4 separate regions of the Homo sapiens genome follow, and all the other regions are reported to be linked to region 3. The links are microRNA targets in miRTarBase. Many come from high-throughput screens and were not tested one by one. Region 3 holds a microRNA gene; each other region holds the end of a gene's coding sequence.

The links. Region 3 holds the annotated microRNA hsa-miR-5194 (UGAGGGGUUUGGAAUGGGAUGG, at 4,083-4,104, opposite strand). A microRNA usually pairs through its seed, bases 2 to 8, with sites in the 3' UTR of a target mRNA and lowers its output. Matches are read on the target gene's strand: a 7mer-m8 pairs with bases 2 to 8, a 7mer-A1 pairs with bases 2 to 7 and ends in A, and an 8mer does both.
Region 1: the mRNA of YIPF2 is a reported target of hsa-miR-5194. Seed matches in the 3' UTR shown: 7mer-m8 at 1,034-1,040 and 7mer-m8 at 1,869-1,875.
Region 2: miRTarBase lists RAP1GAP2 as a target of hsa-miR-5194. The part of its 3' UTR that is shown has no 7-base or 8-base seed match.
Region 4: miRTarBase lists SRCIN1 as a target of hsa-miR-5194. Seed matches in the 3' UTR shown: 7mer-A1 at 872-878, 7mer-A1 at 1,244-1,250 and 7mer-m8 at 1,307-1,313.

The regions. Positions count from the first base shown.
Region 1 is chr19:10,918,355-10,924,188 of GRCh38, reverse strand. It overlaps YIPF2 (Yip1 domain family member 2), which reads left to right. Exons shown (of 10, transcript NM_001321439.2): 6 at 1-113; 7 at 190-356; 8 at 512-694; 9 at 782-917; 10 at 1,015-1,996. The coding sequence ends at 898. It overlaps CARM1 (coactivator associated arginine methyltransferase 1), which reads right to left. Exons shown (of 16, transcript NM_199141.2): 9 at 4,509-4,594; 10 at 4,223-4,312; 11 at 3,616-3,753; 12 at 3,441-3,530; 13 at 3,243-3,355; 14 at 3,062-3,139; 15 at 2,746-2,814; 16 at 1,114-2,574. The coding sequence ends at 2,432. Among named protein-coding and RNA genes, the nearest start is that of YIPF2, 7.4 kb to the left of the region's middle. RefSeq lists a silencer at 2,978-3,157.
Region 2 is chr17:3,031,117-3,036,950 of GRCh38, reverse strand. It overlaps RAP1GAP2 (RAP1 GTPase activating protein 2), which reads right to left. Exons shown (of 25, transcript NM_015085.5): 24 at 4,502-4,540; 25 at 1-3,559. The coding sequence ends at 4,532. Among named protein-coding and RNA genes, the nearest start is that of OR1D5, 30 kb to the left of the region's middle.
Region 3 is chr8:130,004,278-130,010,111 of GRCh38, forward strand. MIR5194 (microRNA 5194) reads right to left here and starts at 4,176; the gene lies at 4,057-4,176. The region is part of intron 1 of CYRIB (CYFIP related Rac1 interactor B); the gene reads right to left. All of the region lies in intron 1 of LOC124902025 (a long non-coding RNA gene), which reads right to left. It also overlaps the pseudogene RNU7-181P.
Region 4 is chr17:38,528,331-38,534,164 of GRCh38, reverse strand. SRCIN1 (SRC kinase signaling inhibitor 1) reads left to right here. Exons shown (of 19, transcript NM_025248.3): 19 at 734-4,134. The coding sequence ends at 868. Among named protein-coding and RNA genes, the nearest start is that of SRCIN1, 75 kb to the left of the region's middle.

The DNA of each region.
Region 1 (5,834 bases), not on the chromosome of region 3:
CTTCTGGATCTGTGCCACGTTGGCCTTTGTCCTGGCCGTCACTGGCAACCTGACGCTGGTGCTGGCCCAGAGGAGGGACCCCTCCATCCACTACAGCCCCCAGTTCCACAAGGGTAAGCAGACGGGCAGGCCCAATGCCTGGCAGGGCCCTGGGGTACAGGGGGTGACTGCTCACCTTGCCCCCCCCAGTGACCGTGGCAGGCATCAGCATCTACTGCTATGCGTGGCTGGTGCCCCTGGCCCTGTGGGGCTTCCTGCGGTGGCGCAAGGGTGTCCAGGAGCGCATGGGGCCCTACACCTTCCTGGAGACTGTGTGCATCTACGGCTACTCCCTCTTTGTCTTCATCCCCATGGTGGTGAGTGTGGCCTGGCGCGGAGTGGGTGGTGGCTGTGTGGGGACACTGGCATGGTCACCTGCCGCCTCATTCCCATGGTGGTGAGGGTGGCCTGGTGCAGAGTGGGTGGTGGCTGGGGGGACTGGCATGGTCACCTGCCGCCGTGTTGCTCCCAGGTCCTGTGGCTCATCCCTGTGCCTTGGCTGCAGTGGCTCTTTGGGGCGCTGGCCCTGGGCCTGTCAGCCGCCGGGCTGGTATTCACCCTCTGGCCCGTGGTCCGTGAGGACACCAGGCTGGTGGCCACAGTGCTGCTGTCCGTGGTCGTGCTGCTCCACGCCCTCCTGGCCATGGGCTGTAAGGTACGGGTCTGGGGTGGCCACAGGTGGGGCCGAGGGGCTAGGGGGGCATGGGCTGGCCCTGCCTCTGACCCCAGGGGTCTTGTGCAGTTGTACTTCTTCCAGTCGCTGCCTCCGGAGAACGTGGCTCCTCCACCCCAAATCACATCTCTGCCCTCAAACATCGCGCTGTCCCCTACCTTGCCGCAGTCCCTGGCCCCCTCCTAGGAAGGCCCGGGTCCCACAGGTAAGGACTATTCCCAGCTGGGCTAAGGGGGCTGCCCTCCCACTCCCAGTCAAGGCGAGAGGTTCTGGGGCCACTCCCAGACAATTCTTTCTTTCAGGCAACACCTAAGTGGACCAACCCCTCTGCCTGTCCTGCCCCCCAGACGATGACTGAAGGCTCCTTTGACACCTTGAGATGATTCTGCTACTTTCCAGACTTTTCTTACAAAGCAAACACTTTTATTTTCTATGCAAAGGTGATTCAGAGAATTTATATAAAGGCGGGCGAGGGGCAGCCGAGCAGGGAGCTTTGGGACAGGGCTGGGGCCCCCATATCCCCCCCGGGCCACCTGCTTTCCCTCCTATGGCTCCCCTGGAACAGGAGGGAGAGCCAAGGGGGCGGCCCAGCCTGGACAGCGCCCGCTCCTGCCTGGGTGCACACACGGCGGGCCTGAGCTCCAGCATCTGAGTTTGGGGGTATGAGAAACAGGGGAGCAGAAGGAGAAGAAAACTGCCTGTGCTGCAACACGTTTCCTCATTTATTTTTTCTTTCTTTTTCTTTTTTTCTTTTTTTGGAGGGAGAGGTCCCTGCAAGGTCCCTTCCCGGGCAGGGGAGGGATGGAAATGCCGTCACAGTAGTAGGGACTGGAGCGTCTACAAGGATGGAGGGGAGCTACTCAGGCCTAACGTTAGCTACAAGGAAAAAGGACGCCTTCCGTGACAGATCCTTGAGGTGTCTGTGTCTGCCCCAAGTGGCCGGCAGTGGCCTTCCCTCCGGGCCCAAGGCCTGCAGCCACCTGCTCTAACTCTTGAGTGGGGGGGCGGGGGGGGACCTGCAGGGGCTCGGGGACAGGACAGCAGCAAGAGGCAGGGGCCGAGGACGGAGGCCTTCCCGACAGTGGGGTGGGTTGTACATTCAAGTGTGAGGTGAACCCTTTGGTGGGGAGGGGGCCCCTGAAGCCTCGGCGGGGCCACCCCTCCCCGCGGCGCCTCTGAGTCTAGGGAGAGGGGCTGCTGGCTCGGCCCGGCCGGCCTGGCTTCACAGAGGGTCTGCGGATTGACACTGGTTCTTTTCATAAAAAAATAAAATTAAAAAAAGCAGCATGTCACGTCCGTTGTGACCGAGGCCTGGTCGTCGAAGGGGAGGCCCCGCCTGGCCAGGCTACCTTCCCACTGGAGACAGGCAGGGGGACAGGTGCTAAGGGACCTGGCAGGCAGGGCTGGCAGGCCCCATGGCGCCTGTTCCAGCAGATGACAAGCCCAGGTCAGGGTAGAGCGGGCAGGAGGGGGGACGAGGGCTCCCACAACATGATTTTGTGTAAAATATGGCAGCGACACACGCTCAGGGCCGGGAGGTGGGGGTTAGGGTGGGGACGGCGGCAACATCGTGTAAAAAAGTGTCCCAGTTCCCATAGCAAAGAGAGCTGTGACCGGGTGTTCGAGCTTCTCCAGTACAAGGGGGAAAGCCGCCCGGCGGGGGCGGCGGGCAGGGACATCATTTGGTTTCCTGGTGCTGTCAGTCCGCGGGGCGGGCCCCTAGCTCCCGTAGTGCATGGTGTTGGTCGGGATGGACATGGGCGACGCCATGGAGATGGCGGGGCCGCCCATGGTGAACTGGCTGTTGACTGCATAGTGGGCACTCGTGCTGCCACCACCACTGCCCTGGGCGCCGGAGGACCCTGTGGAGCAGGCAATGGCAGTGAGGGGCTGCCCTGGCCCGCCCAGCCCCCAGGCAGAGTCACAGAGAGAGAGAAAGGGCAGGCAAGAGGGCAGGCGGGCGGCCGGACAGAGGATGGCGACTCACACGCTAGCTCGGCCCCCACGGGCCCTGCCCCCGCCACCCTCGTTACCTTGGACAATCCCCGTGCTCATTATGGAGCCCATCCGGGAGTGGGTGTGATTGACAATCCCCGTGTTGGCTGCGCAGCGAGAGGGAGGAAAGAAGGAAGGGAGACGGCGTCACCGCCCCCAGCCACCCAGCCCATGCACAGCAGCAGGCTGCAGAGCGAGGCAGAGAGGACGGAGAGCCTCGGCCGAGAGCCCCCAGGAAGAGGAAAAGGTGAAAGGACCAAGCAGAGGCCGACCCTGGTCACCACAGGCCCTTCCCGGCCCCTGGGCAGTCCTGGGCATGGCTCCCTGCTGCCCCTGGCCCTGGGGGACACTCACCTAAAGGAATCAGGTTGTTGTGGCCCACGCTGGAGCCACTGGCAATAACACTGCTCAAGTCATAGGCGGTCGGCATCCCTGTGTCCAGAGAGGGAGACGTCAGGGCTGGAGGCAGAGGGGCCAGGCCTGCGGCGAGGGCGGCCTCCCGGGTTGGCTGGGCATTGGGGTGGGCCCTGCTCACCTGCCACGGCCATCCCGCTGCTGAGGTTGTAGGTGCTGCCCGTGTTCCACATGTTTTCCGAGGGAGATGTGTAGTGGGAGCCGGGTGGGGGTGAGGGCGTTGTGCCCGTGTATCTATGGCAGAGACAGAGCCATGGGCAGGGGCAAGGGGGTTGCAGGGCCGGGGCGCCCCCCTGTGCAGGCAAGGGGCCCCTCCTACCTAAAGAAGGGGTTTTTCAGATCCAGGAGGTTACTGGACTTGGAGCCGGTCTGGTCCACCTGGGCCACAATACTGATGTCGTAGCTCTGTCTGCGGACAGGGTGCAGGCCGTGGCATGAGCTGCTGGGCAGATGGACCCCTGCCCACCACCACCAGCCCCAGGGAGCAGTCGCACCTTTTGTTGGCAATAAGCAGACATGTCCCTGAGAGCGTGTCCCCTGCCTTGGCGAACAGTGGTGACTGGAACAGGCACCGCACCTGGTACCAGTGGGTCAGGGGCTCTGTCGGGGCTGTGGACAGCCACACGGTCATTCTGTGGAGCAGGGACAGGCACATACTTGACTGGGCCGGCGCCACCACTGGAGCCACCACCTTGTATGCCTTGAGTCCTCCCCAAGCACCTGCCCCCTCTGCCAGGGACCCCTGGGACCCTGGAGCAGAGACAGGCTGGCCCCCAGGCAGTCCCAGACACAAACATGAGCAGGCATACATGTACACACGAGGGGCCCGCAACCACGAGATCCCTACTCACCCTGACATGTGCCAAGAGACAGACACAGACCCATGAGGGACAGACACTGGGAACACAGGACACACACACACATACACACACACACACACACACCCCACCCACAACAGTCTCTTGCTCCGAGACAGGCTCTCACTCCCATTGGAAGGGATGGTGGAACCTGGAGCCATGTTCCACCCCCCCAGCCAGGTTGCAGCTGCAGGAAGCCCTGGGAGTGGGGAGGAGGCAGCATGGGCTGCTCTGCGGCACTCACATGGAGCCGATGAAAGCAACGTCAAACCAGAAAGCCAGGCCGTGGACCAGCCCTGAATGCAGCATGTGGAATTTGAATGGGATTTCTATCCTGGAAGGCAAAGGGCAGTGGCTGCTGGGGAAGCCAGACAGGCGCTGCCGAGAGAGAAGAGGGGGTGCCAGGTGCAGAGGCCTGGGGCCCCCGCCCACCATCTGCCCTGGGACGGCAGGATGCCGGCGGGAGCCAGGGGTGGCCCTGACCTTCGGCCTGAGCCAGGCCTGGGAGGATGGAGTGTGGGTGCCAGTACCTGTGCAAATCTCCTTCTTTGGCTTCTAAGAAGTTCACCGTGTACTTGACAGACTTGGCCATCAGGATCCGGATGTCAAATGTGTCCTGGGAGAGACCACAGGTGTGACGTGGCATCTGACGCCAGGGCCAGCATGGGAGGGGAGAGCCCTGCCCCTTCCCCCAGGTCTGCCCACGGCTTCTAGGCTGTGCAGCTAAAACGAGCTTGCTCTTCCCAGACACGCCGTGAGGAGGGGACCGGCACAACGCCACCGAGGGCAATCAGGTGACAGCTCTCCAAATGACAAGTGTTTATCCACATAAAAGATTTGGCACTACAGGAGTTTAACCTCCAGATACATGAACACATCAACAAACTTACATGTATAATTAGATTGTCCGTGGTAGCGACACACTGGAAACCATCTAATTAAACCAGTGATGGCTCTCCCATCAAAGACCATGCGGACGTGAGAAAGAATGAAGAGGCTCTTTATGAACAGATGAGGAAAGATCTCCAAGCTAAATCATTAAGCAAGTTAACCAAAAAAGCAAGTTAAAGAACTAGGTGCTAGCTGGGTGTGGAATTGTATGCCTGTAACTCCAGCTACTCAGGAGGCTGAGGCAGGAGGATCGCTTAAGCCCGAGAGTGTGAATCAAGCCTGGGAAACACAGGGAGACCCTGTCTCTTAAAAACAACAACAACACTAGTGCTGCTGTCCACTCCCAGCAATGTTTATATCCGACTAACACACCTGCCATGAACTATGTAAACCGAATAAAATCCAAAGAAAAGAATAAACCAGTTGTTGGAAGCACTGGTGACCAACCAGAGCGGCCAGGATTTTGGGGATCAAGCTCCTGGAAAGGAGGGAAATGCCCTTTCTGGAGGGAGCCCTTTCTGGCCTCTACCTTTTCCCCATGGGGAGGGCAGAAAACGGCCACCTCGACCTTTCAGCAGCTTCCTTGGGTGGGGAAAGCAAAATGGGAGCTCAGGGTTACCAAGGCAGCTCGGATTCAAGGGGCTGTGATGTCAAAGCAAAGGGAAATAAGTGCAGGAGGGCAAGGTGGGCGGTGCACACTCAGTGCGCTTGTGAAATTGGCCAACTCCTGAGCTTTGAGCGAGGCAGGGCATCAGAGGCTAAGACACCAAGCAGAAAGCCGCTAATAAGAGGCTCAACGCCAGGTGCAGTGGCTTATGCCTATAATCCCAGCACTTTGGGAGGCCGAGGCGGACGGATCACCTGAGGTCAGGAGTTCAAGACCAGCCTGAGTAACACAGTGAGGCCCCATATCTACAAAAAAATAAATTAGCCGGGCATGGTGGCACACTCCTATAGTTCCAGCT
Region 2 (5,834 bases), not on the chromosome of region 3:
CCTCCTGTACCCATGAGATCTACTCGAACCCCCAACTGCTTAAAACAGATCTGTCTCTACTGACTTAGAAACCAATGAGAAAGGTAGTGTTTGAGTTGGCACCTGGCAGGGTCAGGGAGGAAAGCGAAACAGGCTCTTGTCCTGCCTTGTCACGGGAGCCTGAGTTTCTATTAACCACCTTCGTTTAAGAATCAGGGAGAAATGAAGAGTTTTTCTTTGACCACTTTTCCTCTTAATTTAGGAAAAGGGAAGCTGAGGGTGGGTGAACAGCATCTTTTTCCCTGGCCTCTGCCCCCATTACACAGCCCCCATCAGGAGCTGAAGAACCGATCCCACTGAGGAATAGTTCACTGAATCCCTTTCCCTCCTCGTTTTCTTGGTTCAAGCTGCATCCAAAGCCCAAGGGTCCTCACTGAAAAATCCTAGAGACTATCCCCCCTGATGAAAAAGAGCAGAAACTGCAGCCTCACCAGCATCCTTGACTGCTCACCTCCATGCCAGTGCCAAAGCAGCAGCTAACTGGCTTCCCCAAAACCCAGGGCCCCAGGAAACGCAGCCACTTATTCAACCAACCATGTAGGCGCTGCAGAGGAAGGGACCCTGGGTTGAGGGTTCTAATCCCAGCTTTGCCAACAGCCAGCTGTGTGACCTCAAGCAAGTTACTCCCCTCACCTGGGCTAAGATTTCTCATCTGGACGATGACATGGTTGGATGAGATGCTAAAAAGAGCCAGCAGGCTTGTGTTGAGATGATGCTGACAAAGCTGAACCACTGAATCTTTTTCAAGAAACGTCATTTTACATGATTGGCATAGACAGACACTCTCATTAAGACCTTCCATCGCGAGCTTTTCTGCACCTGTTTTTAAGCGTCAACTGAGCTGGAGGCATATGGGTGACCCTACAGTGCCTGAAAAGTAGTTTCTTCAGTGAGTCAGGCAGTTCCCAGAGCCAGAGATGTGTCCCGGAAAACATCCCCTCGTGGAGATCACAGTGGAAATGCCTCAAACACCAGCGTGAGCACCATCTAGATGAGCCTAGTCACGAGGGCCAATGAGGTTTGGGCAAATCTTTGAGCCCCAAGACTGGGCGCAGCATAAAAGGAAAGACATTTTAGATCAGAGCAGATGTAGGGACAGCGTGGGGGAAACAGCCCTCCAGGAACCCGAGCTGCCCGCCCCGTGGTCTAGGGGAGGGAGGGGAGGCTGGGCCATCCTTGTTCTCCTCCTCCCTCTCAGCACTGCCCGGGTGGGCTGGAAGTGCACACTCTGGAAGCCACAGGATGGAGCTCCTAGAGATAGTGAGGCATGACCAGAGGGAAGAGGCATTTGGGGTCCTGTTCAGATCATTCCAACAGCAAACCGGGCATGGAGACCCCATCTCAGGTCTGTGCTTCTCTGGGGGCCACCCAGCCATCCTGCCCACCAGCTCAGAGGCAGGGACAAAGCCCTCCCAAGAGGCAGCAGGCAGCAAGGGTCAGCCAGCGCAGTGGGGACAGGCAGGTATGGGATTCCCAAATGGGACAGCATGGTGACAACCTGGAAACCCCAAAGGACCCCAGATGGCAATGTGACACGGCCCATCCACCAAGCACCTGTAATGCCGGCTTCCCACAGAGGCGAGCCAGATCCTGCAACTGTTCTTAAAGAAATGCAGTTTGACCTTGCCAGTGCCTCCAGAAGCCCAGCCAACAAAACGCGTCCAGAACGTACAGGCCTCTTTCCAGCCGTGGGGGCTGCTACGGTGACTCTTCATAAAAGCTAAACAGATATTTTGTTGACCTTCTAACAAGAATAAATTTTACTAGACTAGTACTTTAGAGAAAGTACTAGCAAAGGGAGAGCTCCTCTCCAGCTTGCAAACAGGACTCAATCATTCCCACACACGTGGCGGGGAAGAAAGATCACAATGTTGCTTGAATGGCAAAAGCTATAGGGAGAATTTCACAATGTCAGTTAAAAAAAAAAAAAAAAAGTGTAGTATTTATATCTTGGGCACAGGTCCAGATCCCTATGGGAATAAAGCATTCAGCTGGAAATCCTTGTCATTGGTCGTGGGGCAGGTGCCCAGCCAGTGTCACTCTGCAGCCCCGTCTGCACTGAAAGGGGCTCTTCAGGCTCGTTGTACCTGGAGGATGCCCACCTTAACCCCAACCCGGGCCCATCGGCAGAGAAGCCCACGGCGCTGCAGACTCGGAAGGGGGAGAAGCCAGGAGGGGATGTCCTTGGAGGTGAGCTGGCTGTCCCAGCAAGGGGGCTCTGTGGAGGGTGGGGGTGGCATGTGGGTCACAGGGTCTGACCCACACCCAGATGGGGTCCAGGTTGCAGAAACCCTTCAGATGTGACAGCTGCCTACAGACCCGCAGCTGGAGAGGGGAACAGGATTGGGGGGTTGAGCCCCAGACGCAGCTGCCCAAGGGCACAGTAGCTGGAAAAGGCCCCAGGGCCAGGCTGGGCCCCCCAAGACTCCAGGGGCGTAAGCTGCTGAGGGACACTGTGCCCCTTCCCCACCCAGGGGCCTGATCAGAACCCGCAAGTCATCCCCCCCTCACCTCTCTCCTCGAGTAAGTGGGGAGGGGAGATAACGACGTCTTCCTTGAACCCCCATTGTCAGCAGAGACCTGGGCTCCGGCCTGGCCCTCAGGCCCGAGGTTTTCCTCAACCAACACAGCAGCATCTCAGCACTGGCTCCTTTGCTCTCCCTGAATTCCTTCTCACTCCTGGCTTCCCACCCCTTTGTGGGAAAATATCTTCTCAAAGGGAAGAGACTGCCTCGGGGCTGCCCCTCCCTCCCCTCACCCCACAGCAGCCATAATCAGGAGAAACCGGGTGGGACCCAAAGTCCCCGCCTCAGTCCAGGAAGTGTGCAGCGCAGTTCTGGCCCGTCCAGCTCTGGCTCTGAGCTTGAACTGGCTGGAGCCCCGCTCACGGTACACTGGCAGCAGGGGCAGGGCAGCCCTGGGCCTACGTCAGCAGATGGGAAAGGCGTTCAGCACAGAAGCAGATAGACGGTTTAGAGCTCCAGAGCTACGGGGGCAATAGCGCCGAATTTTATCAGGATGGCCTCAAGGATGCTACGAATCTTGGCTCCTGGGAACATGGGGCCTCCACCACCGAGTGCGTTCCTGGTAGTAAAGCCTGCCACGTTCAGGAAGGCACTGCCCTGTGGCCAAGACCCTCACCGAGGCTCTGCTCCCACCCCCTACTCTGTCTCTGAGGCAGACCAGCTCCCCAGTCACTGCTGAGCTCCCCCCAGATCCCCCTTTGCCCGACACTTTTCCTCTCCAGGATGAATAGGATGATAAAGGACCCGGACATCACACTGGGAGGTCAGGAGCAGGAGGAACCTGAGGAAGGAGGCCTCGTCCAGAGATGGGAGGGGCTGGGAGGGCATGTAGGTGAGGGCGGAGGCAGGGCTGTGGCCAGACTGGGACACCTGGACCAACAGCACATCTGTGGGCACGTGGCCATGGGGCAGCAGGGCTGGGACTGTCAGGGTCGTGGACGGCACTCCCAAACTGCTGGTACAGGAGCCTTTTCCAGGACAGAAGAGGGGATTCCCTGAGGAGACAAGGAGGAGGCGGCGATGAGCGAACATTCCGTACAGGAAGGAGGGGACGACGCGGACGTCGGGAGCAAGGGGTGGGGAACACGCCTGCCCATGGCTACAGCTCACTGGATACACTCAGGAGCAGGAGGGCACCTGATGTAAGGGTGCCCCACCTTGCGTGGCCCGAGAAGCTGCGCATAGCCACGGCTTTGGTGGGCAGTGGCGTCCAGAGTGCGTGATGGGAGCCGGGGGTGAAGGTCCATATGCCCATTTGTCTTCTGCTTTTTCATAAATCAGGTTGAACACAGAGTGGGTTCGGTTGTACCCCTCCTCTTGGCTCCAGCTGTGACTCTGACCCCTGAAGCCCCATGTGGGGAGAGGGCTGGGAGCTCAGATGGGTCTCTGGTGACTTCCCCAGCAGAAATCCAGGCCTTGATGGGGGCGAGCTGGACCCACGGCCACTCTGCTCAAACCACGTGCCCCCTCAAAGCAGGCAGGGGAAGAGGCCTCCTGGGGTGGTCCCTCACAGTGCTGACTCCCGACAGGGAGGGAGAACACACCTCAGCCCAGGGCCTCCGCCAAAGACACAAGGAGGGAACAGCTGCCTGAGGGCAGGGGAGCAAGGGAGCCCTCAGGAACTCCTCCCTCCTGGGTCAGAAGCGGGCTTGGGCGACTCCCCTTCTGCCTGCGGGAACCAGACCCCATCGGTGGAAGGGAGGCCTAACTAGTACGTCTAGTCCAGTGTCACTGGGAACCCCCTTCCCATCCGCACACAGGCCATCTGCCCCTCCTTCCCCATTGCAGGTCTTCAGGGGCGAGTAGGAGACTCTTTGGACATCCCCAGCTGGCGGCATCTCTCCGGCCATTCTGAGGTTACAAGGCCTCTAGTTCCCTGATCTAAAAGAAACACACGTCCCCCCTCACGGCCACAGCAGGACATTCACTCAACCCACCTTGGACAGGCGAAGGACTCCACTTTCACATTAGTGACCCTGTTTCAACAAAAATCCATACAGGAGTTTAAATAACCAGACAGCACAGGTCCCTTCCACGGCGGCTCTGTGCACTCAGCTCTCAACAGTCTGGTGAGCTCAGGAAGGGATTCAGGACCCCAGGAACAAGCACTTCCCACCTCACATCTGGACCTGGAGTTCTCGATAGTCTGGCGAGCTCAGAAAGGGACTGGGGGACCCGGGAACCAGCCCTTCCCACCTCACATCTGGACCTGGAGCTCTCGATAGTCTGGAGAGCTCAGGAAGGGATTCGGGACCCAGGAACCAGCCCTTCCCACCTCACATCTGGACCTGGAGCTCTCGATAGTCTGAAGAGCTCAGGAAGGGATTCGGGACCCAAGAACCAGCCCTTCCCACCTCACAACTGGGCCTGGAGCTCTCGATAGTCTGGAGAGCTCAGGAAGGGACTGGGGGACCCAGGAACCAGCACCTTCCACCTCACATCTGGACCTGGAGCTCTCGATAGTCTGGTGAGCTCAGGAAGGGATTCGGGACCCAGGAACCAGCCCTTCCCACATCACATCTGGACCTGGAGCTCTCGATAGTCTGGAGAGCTCAGGAAGGGACTGGGGGACCCAGGAACCAGCCCTTCCCACCTCACATCTGGACCTGGAGCTCTCGATAGTCTGGTGAGCTCAGGAAGGGATTCGGGACCCAGGAACCAGCCCTTCCCACCTCACATCTGGACCTGGAGTTCTCGATAGTCTGGCGAGCTCAGAAAGGGACTGGGGGACCCAGGAACCAGCCTTTCTCACCTCACATCTGGACCTGGAGCTCTTGATAGTCTGGTGAGCTCAGGAAGGGATTCGGGACCCAGGAACCAGCCCTTCCCACCTCACATCTGGACCTGGAGTTCTCCATAGTCTGGCGAGCTCAGAAAGGGACTGGGGGACCCAGGAACCAGCACCTTCCACCTCACATCTGGACCTGGAGCTCTCGATAGTCTGGAGAGCTCAGGAAGGGACTGGGGGACCCAGGAACCAGCACCTTCCACCTCACATCTGGACCTGGAGCTCTCGATAGTCTGGTGAGCTCAGGAAGGGACTGGGGGACCCAGGAACCAGCCCTTCCCACCTCACAACTGGGCCTGGAGCTCTCGATAGTCTGGAGAGCTCAGGAAGGGACTGGGGGACCCAGGAACCAGCACCTCCCACCTCACATCTGGGCCTGGCCGTGTCCAGAGGTGTAGCTCCACCTTGGGAGTTGTGGCAAAGGTGGCTGGAACCCGGAGACACGGCCTGCACCTGCTGGAGCCAGACGTCCCCAGAGCTTC
Region 3 (5,834 bases):
TTTTTGTTTAGAGACAGGGGTCTCCCTATGTTGCCCAGGTTGGTCTCAAACTCCTGGGCTCAATCAATCCTCCCACCTGAGCCTCCTGAGTAGCTGGGACGGCAGGCGTGTGCCACCCAGCCATACCCTCGTTTCACTGAGCCGAATTCAGCTATACTCAAAGGGCCAAATGCTTTTCTTTTTCCATTTTAAAAACTTTAAATAATATAAAAGTGTATTTTGCCTATTGTATTTATTTGTATTTGTTTCTACAGGTTTTTTTGTTTCTTAGTGTGGGAAAACTAGAAAGCCTGCTGGACAAATTCTAAAAGAGCTATAGTACTCTTTTTTCTATTTTTTGTATATTGTGCATTGTACTTTATCGTATATTGTCTACTGCAGTTTCTTTTATGCATTGACTCACTGATGTTCCTGTACAGCGTCACACACACAACCAGCGCATGGAAAACCAACCTTCAGGAACAACTCGGGAGATTGTCAGGAATTTTTTTTTTTTTTTTTTTTTTTGAGATGGAGTCTCGCTTTGTTGCCCAGGCTGGAGTGCAGTGGCACAATCTCGGCTCACTGCAAGCTCTGCCTCCCCGGTTCAAGTGTTTCTCCTGCCTCAGCCTCCCGAGTAGCTGGGATTACAGGCACGTGCCACCACACCTGGCTAATTTTTGTATTTTTAGTGTAGAGACAAGGCTTCACCATGTTGGTCAGGCTGTTCTCAAATTCCTGACCTCGTTATCCATCTGCCTCAGCCTCCCAAAGTGCTGGGATTACAGGCATGAGCCACCGTGGCTGGCCAGGAATTTTTTATTTTTTATTTTTTGCCTACTGTGCTGACTTCTGAACTTCACAGAATTTTTTATTTTTTATTTTTTTGCCTATTGTGCTGACTTCTGAACTTCACCATGAAGATGTGACTCTGTTGAGCAGAGTTTCTTCTCCTTTGGTGCTTTTAGGTCTTGGGGGCACGTGTCTGTCTGTTAGGAACCAGCGGAAAATCAGCCCAGCTCGGATCAGAACAGGAAACCAGGACCCAGGCTGGTGGGTGCTAGGGCAGGGCCTTGTGGCTTCACAACCCGCCTCCCAGGGACAGGCTATCTGGTCAAAAGAACTCGCCCTCCTCACTGCTGGGTCCCTTAGCGGGCTTTCACGTGCCTGGCCTGGTCCCTCCTTCTTTAAATGAAGAGTGGCCTAGATGATTGTCACACTCCTGTGTGACACTGGACAACACACATCACCTCTCTGGGCTTCCATTGCCTCTGAACAGTCTTCCACCTTCGACTGGAATCAGAGCCCCAAAAGCGAGATTCTAACAAGAGGTTACATTGTGTGAGATACTGACCTCCTCAGCATCTAGGGTGATGGGGTCCCCGGGTGGGTCACCTCTAGCTGGGAGATGCTTCCTCTTTCACAGCTCCATCTGTGCCTTAAAAATTAAAAGCTGGGAACCTATAATTCCAGCACTTTGAGAGGCTGAGGCAGGAGGATCACTTGAGCTCAAGAGTTCAAGATCAACCTGGGTAACACAGTGAGACCTCATCTCTTAAAAAAAAAAAAAAAAATGTAAAGGCTGGAAAAGATGGGACTAGGTGATCTCCACTGTCCTTTCCATCTCACACCAGCCACCCCACGCCCAACACCCTCAGAATAGATGACAACGGGCAGATTACCCTTAACAGATATTTCTCTAACCCAGTGACAGGGACCTCTGCATCAGAATCACTTAGAATGCTCATTAAAAATATGACTCCAGGCTGGGCGCGGTAGCTCATGCCTGTAATCCCAGCACTTTGGGAGGCCAAGGCAGGCAGATCACTTGAGGTCAGGAGCTTGAGACTCACCTGGCCAACATGGTAAAATACTGTCTCTATTAAAAATACAAAAATTAGCCGGGCATGGTGGTCCACACCTGTGATTCCAGCTACTCAGGAGGCTGAGGTATGAGAATCGCTTGAACCCAGGAAGCGGAGGTTGCAGTGAGCCGAGATCACGCCGCTGTACTCCAGCTTGGGTGACAAAGTGACACTCTGTCTCAAAAGAAAAAAAGAAGAAAAAGAATCTGGCTTGCCGGGTACAGTGGTGTGCACCTATAGTCCCATCTACTTGGGGGGCTGAAGTGGGAGGATCACTTGAACCCAGGAGAGTGAGTCCAGCTTGAGCAACGTAGCAAGACTCTCATCTCAAAAAATAAAATAAAATAAAATAAAATAAAATATATATATATTTATTTATTTGGGAGGCCGAGGCAGGTGGATCACCTGAGGTCAGGAGTTCGAGATCAGCCTGGCCAACATGGTAAAACCCCGTCTCTACTAAAAACACAAATTATATATATATACATATATATGTGTATATATATACATATATATGTGTATATATATACATATATATATGTATATATATATGTATATATATACACACATATATCTGGAACCTCCCACCCAGGAAGTGTAAGCACACCCAAGGTATGAGCAGATTAAAGAAATCCTGCAGAAGGGGGAACACATGCATAGAGTATGCTGGCAAGGTCACATATAGAAAATGGGTGGGGGGACTTGAAAGCAGAGGTATAAATCCTATGTGCACCTTATTTGCTCAAGTCTACATGGACCAGCATCCAAACATTGAAATTTTCCTTTCAAATTCAATCCCCCAGAGTGTATGGTCTCAGGACCCTTCTTTCCCCCAAATCTTTTCTAGTGGGGATGCATGTATGCAGACAATGCAAAGTGCTACAAATCGCAACACCAAATGCATCAAGAGGTAGATTATTAGTATGAGTCAGTTTCACACTAACTTTACCAAAAACCTCACTGCTCACATTAGCTCAAGTAATCTACTTACAACCACAATTATAAATTCTGAGCTTCCTTGGCTGACGAGTTTGCAGTAGGTGGTTCTTGGCCCTGAGGGCTGCTGAGATGCCCGCCGTTATGAGATGCCCACTGAGAAAACCACCGCCCTCTCCCAGCAGGGTCCAGCAGGAGCAGTGTCTGCTCTCGGCTACACAACTCCATTCATAGACTTTTCCAGTTACGTTTGAGGTTCACCCAAAGGAGGTAGTAAAAACAGGAGGTGGGCACTGAAGCTGGCCTGGTATGTTTGAATTCCAGCTCTGCTTTTTATCAGCCTCCAGGTTTTCTCAGTTTCCTCATCTGTAAAACGGGAATAATATTACCTGCCTCACAGAGTTACCATGAAAGTAAGAAATAAAATATTCAAAGTATATGACATGGCTGGGCGCAGTGGCTCACGCCTGTAATCCCAGCACTTTGGGAGGCCGAGGCAGGTGGATCGCCTGAGGTCAGGAGTTCGAGACCAGCCTGCCCAACATGGTGAAACCCTGTCGCTACTAAAAATACAACATTAGCTGGGCGTGGTGGCACAGGCCTATAATCCCAGCTACTTTGGAGGCTAAGGCAGGAGAATTGCTTGAACCTGGGAGACGGAGGTTGCGCTGAGCCGAGATTGCACCATTGCACTCCAGCCTGGGCAACAAGAGCGAAACTCCATCTCCAAAAACAGCAACAACAACAAAGTACAGGACACTTGCTCCATGCTCCATAAAAGAAAGTTAATATTGCCATAAAGGAGACCAAAAAAATCACAGAAACCCACGACGTGATCCTGATGGGAGCCCTGTTAAGAGGGGCTTCCAGGCCAGGCATGGTGGCTCACGCCTGTAATCCCAGCACTTTAGGAGGCCGAGGCGGCCAGATCATCTGAGGTCAGGTGTTCAAGACTGGCCTGTCCAACATGGTGAAACTCCATCTCTACTAAAAGTACAAAAATTAGCCAGGTATGGTTGCGGGCGCCTGTAGTCCCAGCTACTCGGGAGGCTGAGGCAGGAGAATTGCTTGAACCCGGGAGGTGGAGGTTGCAGTGAGCCGAGATCGTGCCACTGCACTCCAGCCTGGGTGACAGAGCGAGACTCTGTCTCTAAATAAATAAATAAATAGAGGGGCTTTCTGCCAGGTCCATAGCTGCCTGCACACATAGTCCAGAAATGTGACCTCACTCCCTAGCTCCTGCTCCACTCGCCACCATCAACCTGCTGGCCTGTCATTCATGGTGTCTGGTGACTCTCCCTGCCATCCCATTCCAAACCCCTCAGAAAAGCTTATCCAATTCCTGAGTGAAAAGAATGGGCCTAGAAGGGCTGAGTTTAAGTTAACCCAAAGAAATAAACCCAAACTCCTTCATTCTCCAAGCTGTTCAGGCCTCAGGGACATGTGTGGGGTGACTGTGGGGCACACACTATCATTCCCCATGTGGATCCATCACGGGGCCTAGCACACAGGAGGTGCACACTCAGTGACTGTTCTGTTGTTGAATGGCAGGATGAATCTCACTCCTCCCTCAAGACCTGAAAACTTGAGAGTTATGAAGGCATGTTTAGGAATGACTGTAAAATACCACTTTTCAGAAAACACAGAAATCTCCATTTGATTCTTTCATTTGCAAGCCTGTTTGATCTGTCTACACACTGGTTGGTCTCTCGTGTCCCAGAAGCAGAGGGCAAGACACAAAACCAGAGTTCAGGGGAGCAAAGCAGACATTTTAGGAAGTTATTGCCCAAGTTTCACTTCCACGTCGTCTTCTGCATTCTACTTCAACTCTGGTTTTGAGCAAAGCTGGGGCTGGTGAAGAAACTTCCCTTAGTCTACATGTTCCTCTCCCTGAGTCCCAGCACTGAGGCTCTGTAGACCAGGGACTCAAATTACTGAGCACTCACTGATGCTAGACCCTATGTCAGGCATATTCAGACATCTTCTGACCTAAGAGCCACAACAAGCTGGAAAACAGACACTGAGATGCCAAGAGAGGTTATGCAATGTGCAAAAGACTTCACAGTCAGGGAGTCGGGTCTGAATCAAAGATCTCCTTGGCTCCAAGGTCCTTGCTTCTCAACCTGCCACTGTCCTTTTTCAAAGGCGCCAACCACTAACATGGCAAAGTGTTTCATTTTTCATAAAGCCATCTGAGGAGTTCAAAAGCATCTTTTTTTTTTTTTTTGAGACAGAGTTTCCCTCTTGTCACCCAGGCTGGAGTGCAATGGCACAATTTTGGCTCATTGCAACCTCTGCCTCCCAGGTTCAAGCAATTCTCCTGCCTCAGCCTCCCGAGTAGCTGGGATTACAGGTGCCAGCCAACACGCCCAGCTAATTTTTGTATTTTTAGTAGAAACAGGGTTTCACCATGTTGGCCAGGCTGGTCTTGAACTCCTGACCTCAGGTGATCCACCCGCCTCGGCCTTCCAAAGTGCTGGGATTACAGGTGTGAGCCACTGCGCCCGGCCCAAAAGCATCATGAAAAACTGTCCCCCTGCATTAAATTCAGATCCCATCTCTGCCAGAAGGATAGCCCTGGACAAATCATACAGCTCTCACCCACCTGTGACTATGCCCCATGGGAGAAGGACGTGTATATGGAGGCTTTCTGCTAGACTATGCTAGATGCTTTGATACACATTATCCCACTCAATCCTCCAAACATTCCAGGGAAGCAGGTGATAGTAGCCCAGCTTCATCAATGACAATTCTGGTTCTGCAGTGGGATGTGATTTGCCCAAGGTCATGCAGCGCTGAGAAGCAGGCCCAGGGCTCCATCAGCCCTGCCATGCAATAGGCTTTGTTGAGTGAGCACTGGATGTAAATTCCAAAGAGCTTAAAGCGGCCAGACAGAGCCAGTGACAGGAGACTCTATTAGGCAGATGAGGAAAGAATGGAGCTTTTCTTCCTCCTACCGCCCAAGCCTTTCCCATCCTTAACTCCTCTGCACAACGGGGCCCTCACTGTCCTTCCCCCACCTTCTTATCAAAGGATGCTGGTGCTGGGAGGGGG
Region 4 (5,834 bases), not on the chromosome of region 3:
GGAGGATGAGGGGTCAGTTCTGACCACTAGAACTGACCAGTGAGGGCAGGACAAGTCATGAGGGAGTAGCCTCCTGTTACCAACTGGGGCGACAAGTGCTTGCAGGGCATGCAGTGGGGCCTCCTGCACTGGGCGGGAGGCTGGTGCGGCAGCGCCTTCTTCTCAGATTTCCAGGTGGTGGTGGTGGTGGTGGTGGACGGGGTCTTTGAAGTGTTTATTCCCCCCTGGGAGGATAAGCCCCCTCCTCTGTTGCCACCAGGATGAAGCTGGAAGGGGCTCTGGCTGTACAGCGGGCCATTTGGGACTAGGAGCCTTTCCCCACCCTGACCCCCGTCCCCCGCAGGGCTTGTGCCCCTGTCCCAGCTAATGTTTCACTTCTTCCTCCCCTCCCCTGCCCTCCCCCACCCCCACCTCCCCATCTGCCCATCCTGGGCGCGGCCTCTTCTGTGCTTCTCTGGTCGCTCTGCTTCTCTCTCTGCTCTCAGTAACTATGGGCCTGCCCTCTGACCACCCAGGCCCTTTGTCCAACCTCGTGCCCCCTCCCCCCCCTTTTCTGCCCCCACCCCTCCACCATTCAAGGGACCCCTCTCTCCAGATGCCCCTCTGGCTTCTTCCTTTTGCAGTTAATTTCCTTGGATTTGTGGAGGTTTTCCACTTTTAAAACTTCAGCTGGGGGCCAGCATGGAGGCGCTCCCTTCCGCTCTCTGACCCCTGACCCCTGTTTTTGTTCCAGGCCACTAAACCATCTAAAGAGATGAGCGGGTCGAATGAGACCTCGAGCCCAGTCTCAGAAAAGCCCTCGGCTTCCAGAACCTCTATCCCTGTATTGACTTCCTTTGGGGCAAGGAATTCTTCCATCTCCTTCTAGAAGCCCCTCACCCCGCTGCCCCGCCTGTCCCCCTCCCTCACTCCTGCCATTTCTCCCCTCTCTTCCTTCATCTCCACCCCACCCCACCCTACTCTCCAGACGCCCTGAGGGGTGTGCCCTGAAGAGGAGGGTGCGGCCCTCCTCAGCGACCCCTACCCATCATCTGTTGGTGTTTTTGGTTTTGTTTTTTTTTTTTTTTTTAACAATTAACTTTTAATTATCTTTTTTTAAACAGTAAAACTAAAAACCAAACACACCACCTTCCTTGATCCCAGCTGGCCTCTCGCTGGCCGCACCTGTCACATCTCTCCTTCTTCTCTTTCACCACTCTTTCCCCCAGTCCATCCTGAAGCTCCTGCACCCCCTTCCCGCCTTCCCCTCACTTCCCAAGAATACTCCAAACAAACTCTGAACCACGGAGACTTGGAGCAGTGGGAGACCCCTCTCCCGTTTCTCGATACCTTCCTGGAGGAACGCGGGGACATCGGACCAACCCATACATCAAGCCAGAGAGCGGGGCTTAGGGAGACTGGCCTTGGAGATGCCCCACTCCCTGTCTAAGCTCCGACAAGACTGTGACTTCCTCTGTGGCTGCTCTGCCTCCTCCCACTCACACCCAAGTGGGCCTGGAGTAGAGACGGACAGGCTGGAGACGAGGCCGGAGTTTGAGAGGCCTCAGGGTGGGTGTGAGGCCATGGAGTCTGTATCCCTGGGGAGGCGCTGGCCTCCTGGGCCTTGCCGTCCAGTGGGGAGTGGAGGGCAGAGGCCCTTTGGTCTGCTGGCTGTGGAGGGTGGGTTGCACGGACAGCCGGATATCGGGGACACTGCCTTGGGAGAGGGCGGCCCGGACGGGTATTTGGTACTTTTAGTTTCCTGATTTAGCACTTTAAATGGCATTAACTTATTGAATGGGGATGGGGTGGGCAAGAGTGAGGGGCCTAGAAAACCAGGTTTTGTGGCTTGCAGTTGGGGGAAGGGTCTGGTTTGAGGGAAATGGGAGGGTCGAGAGGGGCTTGACGGGGAGCACTGAAGACACCTGGGACCCGCAGGTGGGGTGACTTGAACTTCAGTCATCCTCTTGGCAATTTGAGGGTTTTCCCAGGAAAGGATGAGACGTAGTTTTTCAATGGGGCTCTGGTGACCCTGGTGAGATGTCTGAAGGTCCCTGAGGCCTGACCATCCAGCCAGCGCCCCTGGCCTGTGGACGCCCTGCCTGCCCTGCAGAGGCGGTTGGCAGTGCCGCCTGGCTTTTGGCCGGGTCCTGGGGAGGCAGAGAGAGGCCAATTTTGGTTCTCACTCCTGGCCCCCCAGAGGGCACAGTGAGGAGCCGGTAGGGAGAGGATAGGAGAAGAGGAGGAGGAGGAGCGGGGTCCCCGGCCGCAGGATTCCCACTTGGAGCACAAAGTGAAGTAAGCACAGGGGAGGGGGACTAGAATCAGTCCCCCATAGCAAGCACAGAAAGGAGGAGCTGCGCAGAAGGCAGAGCCCCCCAGACCCTGGGGCCTGGCTGGGGAAGGTCCGCACCTGGGGAGAGCTGGGAGCTGTTGAAGGTTTGGGGGGAGGGGAAACGGGTTGTGTTTCTTCATTTCTTTTTTTGTTTTTGCCTTTGTTGGTTCATCCTTGTTTTCTAGCTTTGGATCATTTTTGTACCAAGGCGAGCAAGCCTTTTTGAAAAATAACAAAAGAGGAAAAAAAAAATCCCTCCTGGAAAAAAAAAAAAACCCTGGAAAATAGAAAAAAAAAAAAGGACCTCATAAATGATGCAATTACTTTTAATTGCAGGCAACTCTTTACATTTAAGTGAAGTGTCTTAACATTTTATATTGTTTTAAAAATATATTTACATATTATATATATAATATACGTAATATAAATATATATAAATATTTAAAAAAGAAAAAAAAAAGAAAACCACGGCACTCTCCCTGGCCACTGTTTTGGCGGGGGAGGGGGGCTGGGGGGCGGGCACGTCGGCCTGGCTTCTGTGGTCCCAGTGAAATGGTCTGGTTTGATTTGGCTGTACAGAGACCCCCTGACTTGGGAGGGGAGGGGGGAGTGGTGCCCCCTCCTCCCTCCACTCCATTACTCTCTGCTTGCTACTTCGCTTGCCCCCAGCTCCCACCCTCAGCCCTGTGACTGGAATGTGTGCCCCACCGTCATTGTCCTGAGTTGAATGTCCCTTTGTGGGGGAGGTGGGGGGGGCAGTGTCCATCCACGAAGGGGCAGAAGGAGGGAGCCACGTGCCCCGCCCCACCCGCTCGGGTGAAGCCCAGTGGGATTTGCATCTTTCTTTCTCTTTGGTTCCTGCACATTTATGGGCTGGGAGGCATCCGTGTGGAATTGCGTGCAGCCTGTGTGTGTGCTGGCACAAGCCCATGCACTGTGTGTGCAGACGCATGGGGCCTGCACCCACAGGCATGGCCGAGCACATGTGTGGGGGAAGGCGTGGGCACATAGGTGCATGTAACCTGTTTGGGCATTGGCACGTGCCTACCTGCATGTTAGCGTGAGAGGAGCTTTGTGTGTGAGAACATGTGTAATGTGTGTGCAGACATGCCGAGAGCCAGAGACTTGTGTGTGGGCCACGTACATGTGGATAGAGACGCATACATGGAGGTGCATGTAATCTGTGTCTCCGAGTGTGTGTGTGCAGGTATGTGTGCTGGTGCAGACCCAAGTGTGTGGGTGTGCCTCTGTGTGCGTGTGTTCCATCATCCCTGCACCACTGGCTCCAGATCCCTTCCTGAGCCCCCGTCCCCGCTGGCCCTCTCACAGCCTGCAGCACATCAGTGCCCCCAGCTGCATGCGCCTCGCTGCTCTGTCCATCAGTGTGTGCTTGACCAAGAGAAAACTAAGACGTCTCGGGGGACCCCTGTACCTGGTCCTCTCAGCCCCCGCCCACTGTGCTGTGTTACTCGCATGGGGGATTTCCTGCCCCTTCCACAATATGCTGTTTCCCCAGGAGCCTCAGGCCTGAGGCTCTGAGTGGGGTCCCCAGGGGGCCCCCCGGGGTGAGCCCCGGCTCCACACCCTGCCCCATCCACCCTGTAGGGCCCATGTTGGTGTAGCAGTGATGGCTTCTGTGGATATTCTGTGACCTCTGTCGGTGTAACTTGACAATTTCTAAATGGAAAAGGGTTGCTGTGTTTTCTCTGTCTCTCTTTTTTAATGTCCTTTTTTCTTCTCCCCCGCTCCCTGCTCTCTTTCCTTTTCAGTTTTTCTAGCCAAGTGTTTGGGGCTTTAATAAAACTTGTTTCTTTTTCCTCTCCTGGATCTCCTTCCTATAGGCTGATGTCTCATTATTTCTCTGCTTCACCCTGGAGGATCTGGAAGGTGCTGGGATGGGTGGGGTGGCAGGTGGGGAATCCCTGGCAGCCACTGGCCTTCAGCTGGCAGAGCATGAGGGGGAGGACAGAACAGGGCCCCTGGGATTAGCCAGGTGGGGTGGTGTACACCAGTAATCCCAGCTACTCGGGTGGCTGAGGCATGAGAATCGCTTGAACCCAGGAGGTGGAGGTTGCAGTGAGCCAAGATCGCACCACTGCGCTCCAGCCTGGATGACAGAGCGAGAACCTGTCTCAAAAAACAAAAACAAAACAAAAAAAACCAGTTCTCAGCTTGGCATTCCAGGAGGTGTCCTGCCTAACCCTCACAACCATCGGTGAGGTAGCTACCGGCACTACCTACTCAGGCAAGTGACAAAACTCAGAGATGTTGGGCATCTTACCCAGAGTCATACAACTGGTAGGTTGTAGACAAACCAGTAAGTTTGAATCCAGCTCTGCCTGACACCAAAGCCCACGGTTACCCTGAAACCAAGCAGGGCTGATGACCTCCAGTAGTCCCCTGAATTGGGTCTCAGCCTCCTGCCCTTTGAGTGAGATGACCCTTGGTGGGGGTCCACCCATCTTTTCTTTCTTTTCTTTTTTTTAGACGGGGTCTCCCTCTGTCACCCAGGCTGGAGTGCATGATTACAGCTCACTATAGCCTCAACTTCCCTGGGCTCAGGTAATTGTCCCATCTCAGCCTCCCAAGTAGCTGGGACTACAGGTGCCTGCCACCACACCTGGCTACATTTTTTTGTATTTTTTGTAGAGATGAGGTTTCGCCATGTTGCCCAGGCTGGTCTCGAACTCCTGAGCTCAAGTGATCTGCCCACCTCGGCCTTCCAAAGTGCTGGGATTACAGGCGTGAACCACCGAGCCCGGCCACAAACATCTTTTCTAGATGCAGCAGCTTTCAAACCCGTAAAGTGGTAACAATACAAAATGCATTTGACACCTCTATGCTTTAGGTATGTACACACATATGCACAAACAGCCACAGCAAAGCAGCACCTGCTACACAGAGCACCATGGTGTATGCCATGGGTCCTGATTGGGTTTTACAGGCTTTCCCGGAATTCTGAAGGCTGTGCCACTGTTCCAGCATGTTCTAAGAGTCCCCGAGGCAGCCTTCCAGCTGTTCTGCGTGGCTGAGGGCTGGCATGTTACTGAATCTCTTCTCCCCCCTCAGCATCACTTCACTTCCATCCCTGAAGGTAGTGACTGTGTCCTGGAGCCACAATCTTCCAGTCATCACAGGGGCCCCAGTTGCGCTTCCTTCTCTTAAAGACCTCTTTGGAGACAGAGGGCAGCAACCTGCCTACTGTCTGCAGGGAATGCCCCTCCATGAGTCACCCACCCACCAAAGCCCAGCAACCCTTGAGACTCACAGAAAGCCAGTCCTCAGCCTGCCCGTAGCCCATCCCTATGTCCTTTTTAGAATGTCGGCAGATCTTGCCTTCTCTCTGCCATCCTATTCCCCAAAAACTGGGAGAGGAGCCAAAAAACCCCCTCTCCCAGAATCACTGCACTCATGACAGTTCAAGATCAAGTAACAAACGGAACCATCCGCTGCACGCCTGGAAGGAGGCAGGCACTCATTCACCCGCCAGATGCCTATCCAGGATGCACTCCCTGTGAGG